3 separate regions of the Homo sapiens genome follow, and all the other regions are reported to be linked to region 1. The links are microRNA targets in miRTarBase. Many come from high-throughput screens and were not tested one by one. Region 1 holds a microRNA gene; each other region holds the end of a gene's coding sequence.
Evidence for each region. The annotated mature microRNA hsa-miR-3178 reads GGGGCGCGGCCGGAUCG and lies in region 1 at 1,111-1,127, opposite strand. An mRNA with a match to its seed (bases 2 to 7 or 8) in the 3' UTR can be bound and repressed. Matches are read on the target gene's strand: a 7mer-m8 pairs with bases 2 to 8, a 7mer-A1 pairs with bases 2 to 7 and ends in A, and an 8mer does both.

Region 1 (3,845 bases):
GTGCAGGGATACCCACCTCTGCCTTGACGGCCGCGCACCCCTTAGGAAGTGGCTGTCCAGCGCCTGCCTGTGCTGGGCCTGGGAGAGGAGCTGTCTTGCCAGGGCTCCCAGGCAGGGAGAGGCAGGTGAGGTTCTCAGCCGATGTGTTAGAGGTTGAGCATCGCCTGTGCCCAGCTTGCTGGCTGTCAGTGCTTGATGTGCCCATCCTCAGCTAAAACCCAGAGCTGGCATGTTGGTCATCCCCACCTCAGACGGGACGCCCAGTCCAGAGCTGGTGAGCCCTGGGCCAGCCTTTGGGCCTGGCCTGCCCCATTCACCGGCCAGCGCCCCACCTCCCTGGCTGGAGGGTCGGGGAGGGGCTGGCAGAGATGGTTGGTCCACAGGGCTAGCCCTGGGTGGTGGGAGAGGGGCCCAGGGTCAGGGTGAGAGAGAGCTGGGCCAGGGAGCTGCTGCAGGATGATTTTGAGGTGTGGGGGAAGCACTCTTGGTTGGTTTTGGTTTGCTTTTTAAAAATTGTGGTAAAATACATAACAAAAGTAACTATCGTAACCTGAGCAGTTCTGTGACATGAAGTGAATTCACTGCTTTGTGTGACCTTGGCCACCATCATTCCCCACCACTCACTCCCGCTGGGCTCCCAGCCCTGCCCCACCATTCCGCTCCCTCTACAGCTATGGGTTTTACAAAGAAGGATGCAGGGCGCCCTGACTGCGGGGTGAGGGGCAGGCCTGCCCGCGGTGTGGGCATTCGCTGAAGGGGGACGCCCAGGTGTCTGCCTGAGTTACGGGTTGGGGGGTCGGGCATGTGGGGAGGGATGGAGTTGGAGGTGCATGCTCTCAGAGCTGGTAGGGGTGGCCCGTTTCGTCCCGTGTGTGAACTGGAGATGAGACCCGGCGCCTGCGATCCCGCAGACCGCGCCCGGCCGGGTGTCACTTGTGGGCGCACGCTGCCGGGATGCTGGGCCGAGCCCGCGGTTTAAGACCCAGATCTCAGCCAGGTCCCTTTCGCCGTCCGAGCCTCTGCACCTCGTGGGCTCCGAGCACATCCAGGCCAGAGACTGCGTTTGGGGCGTGGGCACGGGAGACCGTCATCAGCCAGGACGCTCTCGACCGATCCGGCCGCGCCCCGCCCAGCCTCGTAGCGCAGGCGCTGAGTCCAGGCTGACGCGCAACTCTGGGAGCGTTGCGGCACGCGGGGCCTTGCCTACTGTGGGAGGGGCTTCTGGGGGCGGGCTTCTGTCGGGCCAATTAGGATCGCCGCAGGGAAGGCACGCGCCGCGGCTGAGCAACAGGGGCGCGCGTCACCTTCTCTAGTTAACCCGCGCGGCCCCGGGCACAGAGCCCGAGGCTGCGCGGTCCCCGGCGGGCCCGCGGACCCCCCCCATCTCTGCGCCCCCCACATCTCTGCGGACCCCGCCTCGCCCCAGCCCTCCCATCCACAACCCTCACAACCTTGCATACCCCGCTACGCTCCCCACCGCGCCCTCACATTCCTGCAGACCCCGTCTCCCCACAACGCTCCCCGCCAACGCTGCGGAGCTCCGCGTCGCCCCAGCGCTCCCTGCCAAGCCCCCCACACCCCTGTAGACCCCGCCTCGCCCCAACCCTCCGAGCTGCTCCCCTTATACCCTTGCGGACCTAGTTTGTTTCGTCCCAGTCCTCCCCGTCGCGTCTCCCACATCCCTGCGGACCTCCCCGCGCCTCGCCTCTCCCTTCTGTTACGTATCACGCACAGGTGGATCCCACTACGACCCAGCTTGGCTCCTGTCCCGCACCTCCGCACCTGGCCTCTAGCCCCGCCCTCACTGTCTTGGGAAATGAAGCGGAGGGGTGGGCCGGACACTCTAGAAGCACCCTGGCTCGGAGCTTCCCTAGCTCGGAGTTGGTTTGGAGCCCAGGCTAGGGACCCAGGGTGGGCGCAGCAGGGGAGATTGGCACCAGAAGCGTGGAGGAAGGGCACCTCTTCAGCCCGGCTTTTCCGCCCCTGGAGTCTGGGACAGCTCCGGAGCGTCCGGGTACTCCCTCCCAGACTGGCCCTGTTCCTTTTATCACATTTATGTCACACACGTTTTTTCTAAATGGGTTTACACTTTTGCTATTACTTTGCAGTTCGGTTTGTGTGTGTGTGACGGAGCCTGGCTGTGTTGCGCAGGCTGGAGTGCAGTGGTGCGATCTCTGCTCACTGCAGCTTCCGCCTCCCGGGTTCAAGCGATTCTCCGCCTCAGCCCCCTTAGTAGCTGGGATTACAGGCGCACGCCACCACACCTGACTAATTTTTTTGTATTTTTGGTAGAGACAGGGTTTCACTATGTTGGCCAGGCTGGTCTTGAATTCCTGACCTCAATTGATTCGCCCGCCTAGGCCTCTGAAAGTGCTGGGATTACAGGCGTGAGCCACTGTGCCCAGCCTTTTTTTTTTTTTTTTTTTAACACGGAGTCTCATTCTGTTGCCCAGCCCGGCGCGATCCTGGCTCACTGCAACCTCAGCCTCCTGGGTTCAAGTGATTCTCCTGCCTCAGCCTTCCCAGTAGCTGGGATTACAGGCATGCACCAACACGCCCAGATTTTTTTTTTTTTTTTTTTTTTTTTTTTTTTTAGTAGAGACAGGGTTTTACCATGTTAGCCAGGCTAGTCTCGAACTCCTGACCTCACGTGATGTGCGTGCCTCGGCTTCCCAAAGTGCTGGGATTACTGGTGTGAGCCACCACGCCCAGTTTTTTTTGTTTGTTTGGTTTTTTTTGAGACAGAGTCTCACTCTGTCGTCCAGGCTGGAGTGCAGTGATGCTACCTCAGCTGACTGCAAACTCACTGAACCTCTCAGGTTCAAGTGATCCTCCTGCCTCAGCCTCCAGTTCCTGGCTAATTTTTTTAGTTTTCGTATAAACGGGGTTTCATCGTGTTGGCCAGGCTGGTCTGTAATTCCTGGCCTCAAGTAATCCACCCACCTCGGCCTCCCGAAGTGCTGGGATTACAGGCGTGAGCCACTGCGCCTTGTCTGCGCCCAGTTTTTGTTTGTTTTTTAAAGAGACGGGATCTCACTATGTTGCCCAGGCTGATCTTGAAGTCCTGGGCTAAATTTTTGTCACTGTGCCTGGCTAATTTTTGTATTTTTAGTATAAATGGGATTTCACCACATTGGCCAGGCTGGTCTCAAACTCCTGGCCTCGTGATCCACCTTCCTCGGCCTCCCGAAGGGCTGGGATTACAGGCGTGAGCCACCGCGCCTGGTCTGCGCCCAGTTTTTGTTAGTTTTTTACGGAGATGGGATCTCACTGTGTTGCCCAGGCTGGTCTTGAACCGCTGGGCTCAAATCATCCTCCTGCTTCTGCCTCCCAAAGTGCTGGGATTACAGGCTTGAACGACCATGCCTAGCCATAATTATCCAGCTATAAGGTCAGCTGATTAATTCGTCTCTCTATATAATAACATATTCACAGGTTGGGAGATTAAGATGAGAACATCTTTGGAGAGGACATTATTCTGCCTTTTAGAGAGAAGGGCCTAGGACAGGAATTCCCAGTGCTCAGGTTTAAAGGAAATATGATGTTCCCATCATCGGTACATGAACGTGCCCCTTTCTCTGCATTCCTACCAACACTGGATATTTTCCACTTTTGGGACTTTTAGCAGTTGTTGAGCCAGCCCATTTTACAGCGGGGATAATTGAGGTTTAAGGAGGGGAAATTACTTGCCTAAGATCTCATGCAACTTTCTGTTTCCTGACTCCCAGTCAAGTCTGATTCTCCCTTGGTATGGCTTATATGGGAGGATATTTACCTGGTGGCTTGGAAACCACTGAATGACTTTGTATCTTCCATCCATCCATGTATCCGCAGCCCAGCGAATG
Region 2 (3,387 bases), not on the chromosome of region 1:
GAGCCAGGGGCCACAGGGGTCAGGCTCAGGGAGTGGGGCGAGAGGAGGACCCTGGGGCCCACTGGGCTTGTCAGGCTTGTGAGGAAACGTCAGGGGCTCAGTGTGAGCCAGGAAGAGCTGGAGGATGTCTGAACATTCACGAGGAGCTGATAAGCAGCCGCTCAGGGCAGAGTTCTGGGCCAGCGAGGGGAGCTGTAGGAGTGTTCAGAACACAGATTTGCTGGAGGTGGGCAGAGGAGAGCGGGCCTCGGGCAGGAGGTCAGCGTGGGATATGGGCCCAGAGCTGTGGTGGAGGTGAGCCTGCTTCACAGCCAGGTGCAGATGAGGTGGAGACTGCAGTCGGGGCAGGACACCAGGACGGCCCCAGGGAGGCCCTGATGGAGAGTTTCCAGAAGAGGGAGTTGTTGGCCAGGGGTTGCTGCCCTCAGGCCACGCAGGAGGCGAGGAGGCAGGGTCATGCGTGGCCTCCTGGGCAGTGGGGCTGAGGGTACCTGAGGGGTGGGCAGGAGCTGGCGCTGCTGTCTCTAACAGTCACTCTCCACCTCCTTCCAGTTCTTCGCCTTCATCGCCACGCTGCTCTACATTCTCCATGCCTTCAGCATCTATTACCACTGATGCACAGGCGCCAGGCCAAGGGGGAAATGCTCTTTGAAAGCTCCAATTATTGGTCCCCAAAAGCAGCTTCCAACGTTTGCCATCTGGATGACAAACGGAAGATCCACTAAAACGTCCACGGGATTAACAGAACGTCCTTGCAGACTGAGCGATGACACCACACTTTGTTTGGACATTTAAATTCACTCTGCTGAATAGGAGGAAGCTTTTCTTTTTCCTGGGAAAACAACTGTCTCTTGGAATTATCTGACCATGAACTTGCTCTTCTAGACAACTCACATCAAAGCCCTCACTCCACTAATGGAGAATCCTAGCCCCACTAATGCCAAGTCTGTTTGGGGATTTTGCCTCAGCTATGGGCTTCCCTAGAGTAGGTCTAGGGGAATACTCAGTCTGATCTTTTTTTTGTTTGTTTTATTTTGTTTTTTTTGAGACGGAGTCTCGCTCTTCCTCCAAGGCTGGAGTGCAGTGACGCGATCTCCACTCACTGCAGGCTCCGCCTCCCGGGTTCCCGCCATTCTCCTGCCTCAGCCTCCCGAGTAGCCGGGACTACAGGCGCCCACCACCGTGCCCGGCTAATTTAGTTGTATTTTTAGTAGAGATGGGGTTTCACCGTATTAGCCAGGATGGTCTCGATCTCCTGACCTCGTGATCCGCCCGCCTCGGCCTCCCAAAGTGCTGGGATTACAGGCGTGAGCCACCGCGCCCGGCCTGATTCTCTTAAAATTGAAGAGGTGCTGCCAAGGCCTTCAGATCTAACGCAGATGCATAGACCTTGTTCCTGGTACTTGTTCAGCCTGTGCTGGGGAGCCGTGGTCCCGAGTTCCCTGGGAGGCTGACAGGGTCAAGCCACCCTGCCCACCACCCTCCCACTTCCCCTCCCCTTTCCTCTCCAGCATTAGGATTCAAGGGAAATTTGCATGAAGCCAATTTTGAGGGTAGACGTGTGGGGAAAATAAATCATTATACAGTAAGACCTGGGGCTTGAGGGGTGGGGAATGGGGAGGGAAGGGCATAGCCTGCTCCTCCATGAGTCTGACATCTCGGAAACTGAGCAGCTGCCGGACGCCTGGGTCAGGAATCCAAGACCCCACCTCTTAAGGACTGGTTCCTCAGAAAGCACCCTCAGGGAAAAAGGTGAAAACATTACATCCGTGGATTCTCCTGCCACAACCGCATTGGAAGAAAAGGCTGCCGCAACATCTCAGCGAGGAGTGAAGGACCCATGTCCCAGGAACCGCGCTGCGCCACCTGCACTCACCCCCCTCACATTCTCTTAAGCACCCGGTGGCCCTCCGAGGCCTGGCGGAATGGTGGTGCCCACGGGGTTGGGCAAGGGCTCACCAGGACCTCAACGGGCAAAGTTGTGCACACTAAAATATCAAATCAAGGTGCTTGGTTTTAAAGTAAATGTTTTTCTAAAGAAAGCTGTGCTCTTCTGTTGACCCAGACGAATAGGGCACAGCCCTGTAACTGCACGTGCCTTCTGTCATTGGGAATGAAATAAATTATTACGAGAAAGGGACTTGTCCTAACTGGTTTGAGGCCTTACAGTTTTGTATCTACATTTTTCCCCTCCTGGGGTTTGCGGGGACAGGGACAGAACTACAGGAGTCATGGGAAAGAAAATTCTGGCTTCACTACTGCTCACTGCTCACTTTCTGATCACTCTGATACTTTTTTTTTTTTTTTTTTTTTTGCAACCTGATACCTTGAAAAGCTTCTATGTGTCTCTCCTTTTGTTGCCTGGCAGCTGTCTAGGATGATCACTGATTACTATTTACTAAGTAGCCACATGCAAATAAAAGTTGTTTGGTAAAAAGGAGCAGTTGGTCGACTTCATCTTGTTAGCATCTGGAACTGGCCATCAGGTACTAGGTGTTGTCAGTAATTTCAAGAAAAGCACCCCTTGGAGCATTTCACAACCTAAGTTCTCTGAGGGTGGGATCCCAGCCCACCCGGCCTTGCTTCTAGAGCAAGAGCGAAGGGAGGTCACATTTGTCTCCAGGGCTTCGGGTTTATAATGTCATTTGTACTTCAGTAAGGACAGTTTGGGTGCAAGTTCCGGAAACCAAACTCATACAGCTTAGGCAAAAATGGGAGTGCACCAGTAGGGGCTGGGAGAGGTGAAGAGGGCTCAGTAGGAGGAGAGCTGACCCCCGCATGGCTCTCTGCTGCACACTGGCCATCGTCTCTTGCCACACTGCAAGACTTGTCCAAGTCTCAACAAACACCGGCCTCCCATCCCACGTGCAGACACTAGAGGCTCAGCCTGGACCCCCAAAGTCCATCCACCCACAGCTGTTGCAGTGCTGCTTTCTGCCTTGAGGGGCAGCCCTCCTCTCAGCGTAGGGGTCTCCCCAGGCTCTTGTCTTCTGGAGGGAACACCCCGAGGCTCTTGGCAGGCTTCTCAGAGGCCCCAGCAGGAGTGGGCTATCAGGGAACCTGCCCCGATAGTCATGTAGGTTCTTTTCTATTTTTCCTAAGTGTCGGCTGGCTTGAGAAATAAAGGGACAGAGTACAAAAGAAAAATTTTAAAGCTGGGCATCCAGGGGAGACACCACATGTCAGTAGGTTCCGTGATGCCCCACAAGCCGTAAAACCAGCAAGTTTTTATTAGGGAGTTTCAAAAGGGGAGGGAGTGTGCGAATAGGTGTGGGTCACAGAGATCACGTGCTTCACAAGGTAAATAGAATATCAGAAGGCAAATGGAGGCAGGGCGAGATCACAGGACCACAGGATGGAGGCAAAATTAAAATTGCTAATGAGGTT
Region 3 (3,387 bases), not on the chromosome of region 1:
TTCGGGAGGAACCTATGTACTTCATGCTTGTTGGCTGATTTAACAACCTTCTCACTTACTCTTGGCAGCACTTAGCAACTGGTTCCTCTAGAATTCCTTTCCGTTAGACAGTTTCATATAACATTATCTCATAACCTAGGAACATACCCAACAGCAGATTGAACAGATTTCACCTTAGCAAGATGAGGCTGGTGCCTGGGATTTCCGGTTGCGCCCTAGAACGGAAGGAGTGGACAATCTGGTGGGGAGGACCCCACAGGTGGGACTGGGGAGAACGAGGACAAGGCAGGCTTTAGAAATCGGTGTGGCAGGTGAGGCGCCCAGCAACAAGAGCAGCCTGCCACAGCAGTGGCTCTTGGTAAGGCAAGGTTGGGAAATGGCACAGAACAGAAACAGGGAAGGCTGGGTGTGGGATGCTGCAAAGGCCACAGAGGCTTGGGCTGCTGGCCTCCTTCTGGTTGTGGTTAAGTTAATCAATGCCTGCCTTCCGGACTCCTGGCCTCAGTTCTGTAGGCCTCCTTCCCACAAGGCTCACAGTTGAAGTACACAGTGATAATGGGTGTGCTGTACCTCTGGCAGTCACATTATGTGCCTCTATGGAGTTAACCCTCTCATCTTCCGTGTCTTTTAGGCTCTGAATGCTCTTGAATCCATGGCATCAAGTAAGCAGTATGTTGAATACCAGGATCAAATATTGCAAGCCACCCAATTTATAAGGCATCCTGGCCATTGCCTTCAAGATGGGAAAAGCTTCTTGGCTCTTCTCGTTAACTGTCTGTATCCAGAAGTGCATTATTTGGACCACATACGATAGTTAACACTGAGGCTCTTGAAAAACCCATTGCTGTTTATGTTTACATTTAACTTTGCTGTTGCACAAGTAACTTTGCTCAATTGCACTGTAGAGCTCAGTTTGGCCAATGTGTAGTTGACTGAGATGCAAGTTGGGAGGCGTTAGATATTAGATAATTTTGGGGTGTGTGTGTGTGTGTGTGTGTGTTTTCTTAGCTCTTAAGACCTTCTGGGGACTCTTTAAGTTTTTATATTTATCCACAAGAGAAACTTACTAAGTTCCACTTGGGTGCAGAGCCACTCACAGTTGCCGAATGTCCCAGTCATCTCACAAGACCTCCAGATGGAGTTCTTTGTATGTTTCCACTTCTGTCTCTGTTTTATGTAAATGTTCCAGATCTGACAACCTTGGAAGTCACTCAGTACCCTTACTTTTAAACCCCATTTGTGTTCCTCCAAAGTAAAGAAGTCAATTTTGAAAAATTTCTGCATTTCTCAAATGTGGACAAATACAATAGTTTTAAAGTATTGTTTTTCTCAGAAGGGAGATAAAAATGCCGAGTTAGTTAAAGTGGGTCATGTGTAAAATACGACCACTTGATCGTGATTATAGTGGGCAGTAGAGATGATGACAAGTCAATTTCCATCCAGCCGTGTATCCTCATGGAGAAGCTGCCTGTCTGAATCAGGATGGCAAGCTGGCAGTCTGGGAGGAGCATGTTTTGCACAGATGTTTTGTTTGGTCCACTTGGTGAGGAGTGCAGACAGGGCTGCCTCTCTCTAGTCGGGAGAGTCTGTGCATTCCCTCGGGCCCTGACCCTAGCCTCATTCACATCACTTGCCCCTGTCGACACCTAAGTTTGCACCCTTTGATAGACACCATGTTCGATATCTGAAAGGCTCAGTGTCAGGAGACAGAGACTGAGGGAGACTGAAGACCTGATTCTCTGTTCCCTGCTTGTTTTTTAACTTCAAACTCAGATGAAGCCAATGGACCTGCTGAAACACTTGTCTGTGGAAACTGGGTCAGGTCGGGAGATCTACTGAAATTTGGCTTTTTTTCCATAGCCACGTGCCTTCTGTTGTTGACAGTTCATTCATTACCAAAGCCTGTGTGTAACTTTGCCTTGTTCTGTGGCCATCTTCTTGCTCATGTTATTTCTCCTGGGAATGAGCAGTTTGACTTCTGTTCCCACGTTCCTCATTCTATCAGCTCTAGATGGATTTTGCCTGCATAGCTGGCTTAATATGTCTTTGTGTATGGGTAGTCTGTAGCCTGAGAATATTTACCTAAAAATGTCTAAACAGCCACCAAGAATGTTTATAGGGGTATAGGAATATAGTTAACAGAGTGCTAATCTCTCCTCAAATGTCCTTTTGGAATGCTTCCCCCAAAATTGGGAAGTTGGTAGGAGCTTTTCTTTACTTTGAATTTCTTTACTTGGACAGAACGATTCTGCCTTAAAGACACGCTTTGCAGCTCTGATAAAGAACATCCCTGTTTAGTCTCTTGAGTTTTACAGGCCACAAAATGTCCGTCTCAGAGGGATCTGTCTCAGCTTTTCTTATTTTTGCTTCTCTCCGTTTTCAAAATTAATCATCTTGTTCTCTGTATAAGAAAATTTGAGAAGCTGTGGACAATTTAATAGTCTGATCTGGCAACAGCGATTTTTGTTTGGAAATATTTTGTGTTTTCTTTGAGGAGGATATAATTACTGATATCCTAGGATGTGAAATTTTTGAGTGACAGTATGCACATTTTAAAGAAAATTATGATTAATCTGTATAATGTTTTTTGGTCTGTAAAAATTATAAAAAATAAAATCATTTATCTTTGGTTGTAACTGTTTAAAAACCAAATTATAGGGATATCACACTATCTTGTAAAGTGTTTCAGCTGTTAAAGTTGCTGTAGGTTTTTATGCCTGATGTCATTTAATTTATTTGACATTGAACTTCATTAATAATCAGAGATGGTCAGTGAAAGCGCTTCCTCTTTAACTCTTTCTTGCTTAACCTTGGAAGGTTGACTCAACTCCTAGGTGTCTATGGGAAACTCTGGGCTAGGAACGTGCTATAAAGACACTGAGCTAGTTCAGACATGGCCATGCTGCTGTAGCCTCCTGGGAAAGAAGGGCGGCAGAGAGACCAGCCCGCCTGTTGGCTTGCAGGGGTAATGAGCCTTGGCTTGAAAAAATTGTTGGCCTCCAGAGAGCACGGGGCTGTGGTTTCAGAATCAGTGATGGGTGCCGCACATCAAGACGGGAATCAAGCAAGACCAAGGCCCTGTGGACTGAGCAGCGTGGAGGGCGAACGGCTGCAGGCTCCAGACTTCACCACAGGGTGGCCAACAGTGGCATCGGGACCAAATAAAGATGTCTAACAGCTTCCTGGGAGCAGGAGGAGGCAGGATTCTGGTTGCCATGAAAAACATCTCTCTCCCTCTCCATCACTCCCCATGCTGCAGTGCACAGGTGGGTTGCAGAGGCAGGCTGCATCCCGGAATCATGTTGTCCCACTGCCTATTAATAGAACAAGTGAAGGGCAGAATGCTGGAACACACCAGACATAGAGGGAGGGAGGTCCTGCCAGATG

Region 2: the mRNA of MALL is a reported target of hsa-miR-3178. Seed matches in the 3' UTR shown: 7mer-A1 at 1,171-1,177 and 7mer-m8 at 1,317-1,323.
Region 3: miRTarBase lists EPG5 as a target of hsa-miR-3178. The part of its 3' UTR that is shown has no 7-base or 8-base seed match.

Annotation. Positions count from the first base shown.
Region 1 is chr16:2,530,869-2,534,713 of GRCh38, forward strand. MIR3178 (microRNA 3178) reads right to left here and starts at 1,137; the gene lies at 1,054-1,137. AMDHD2 (amidohydrolase domain containing 2) reads left to right here. Exons shown (of 11, transcript NM_001330449.2): 11 at 1-549. CEMP1 (cementum protein 1) reads right to left here and starts at 540. Exons shown (of 1, transcript NM_001048212.3): 1 at 1-540. The coding sequence starts at 205. RefSeq lists enhancers at 943-992, 1,771-2,472, 1,773-1,822.
Region 2 is chr2:110,082,923-110,086,309 of GRCh38, reverse strand. It overlaps MALL (mal, T cell differentiation protein like), which reads left to right. Exons shown (of 4, transcript NM_005434.5): 4 at 553-2,440. The coding sequence ends at 615. Among named protein-coding and RNA genes, the nearest start is that of MIR4436B1, 1.9 kb to the left of the region's middle.
Region 3 is chr18:45,849,894-45,853,280 of GRCh38, reverse strand. EPG5 (ectopic P-granules 5 autophagy tethering factor) reads left to right here. Exons shown (of 44, transcript NM_020964.3): 44 at 632-3,387. The coding sequence ends at 814. Among named protein-coding and RNA genes, the nearest start is that of SIGLEC15, 26 kb to the right of the region's middle.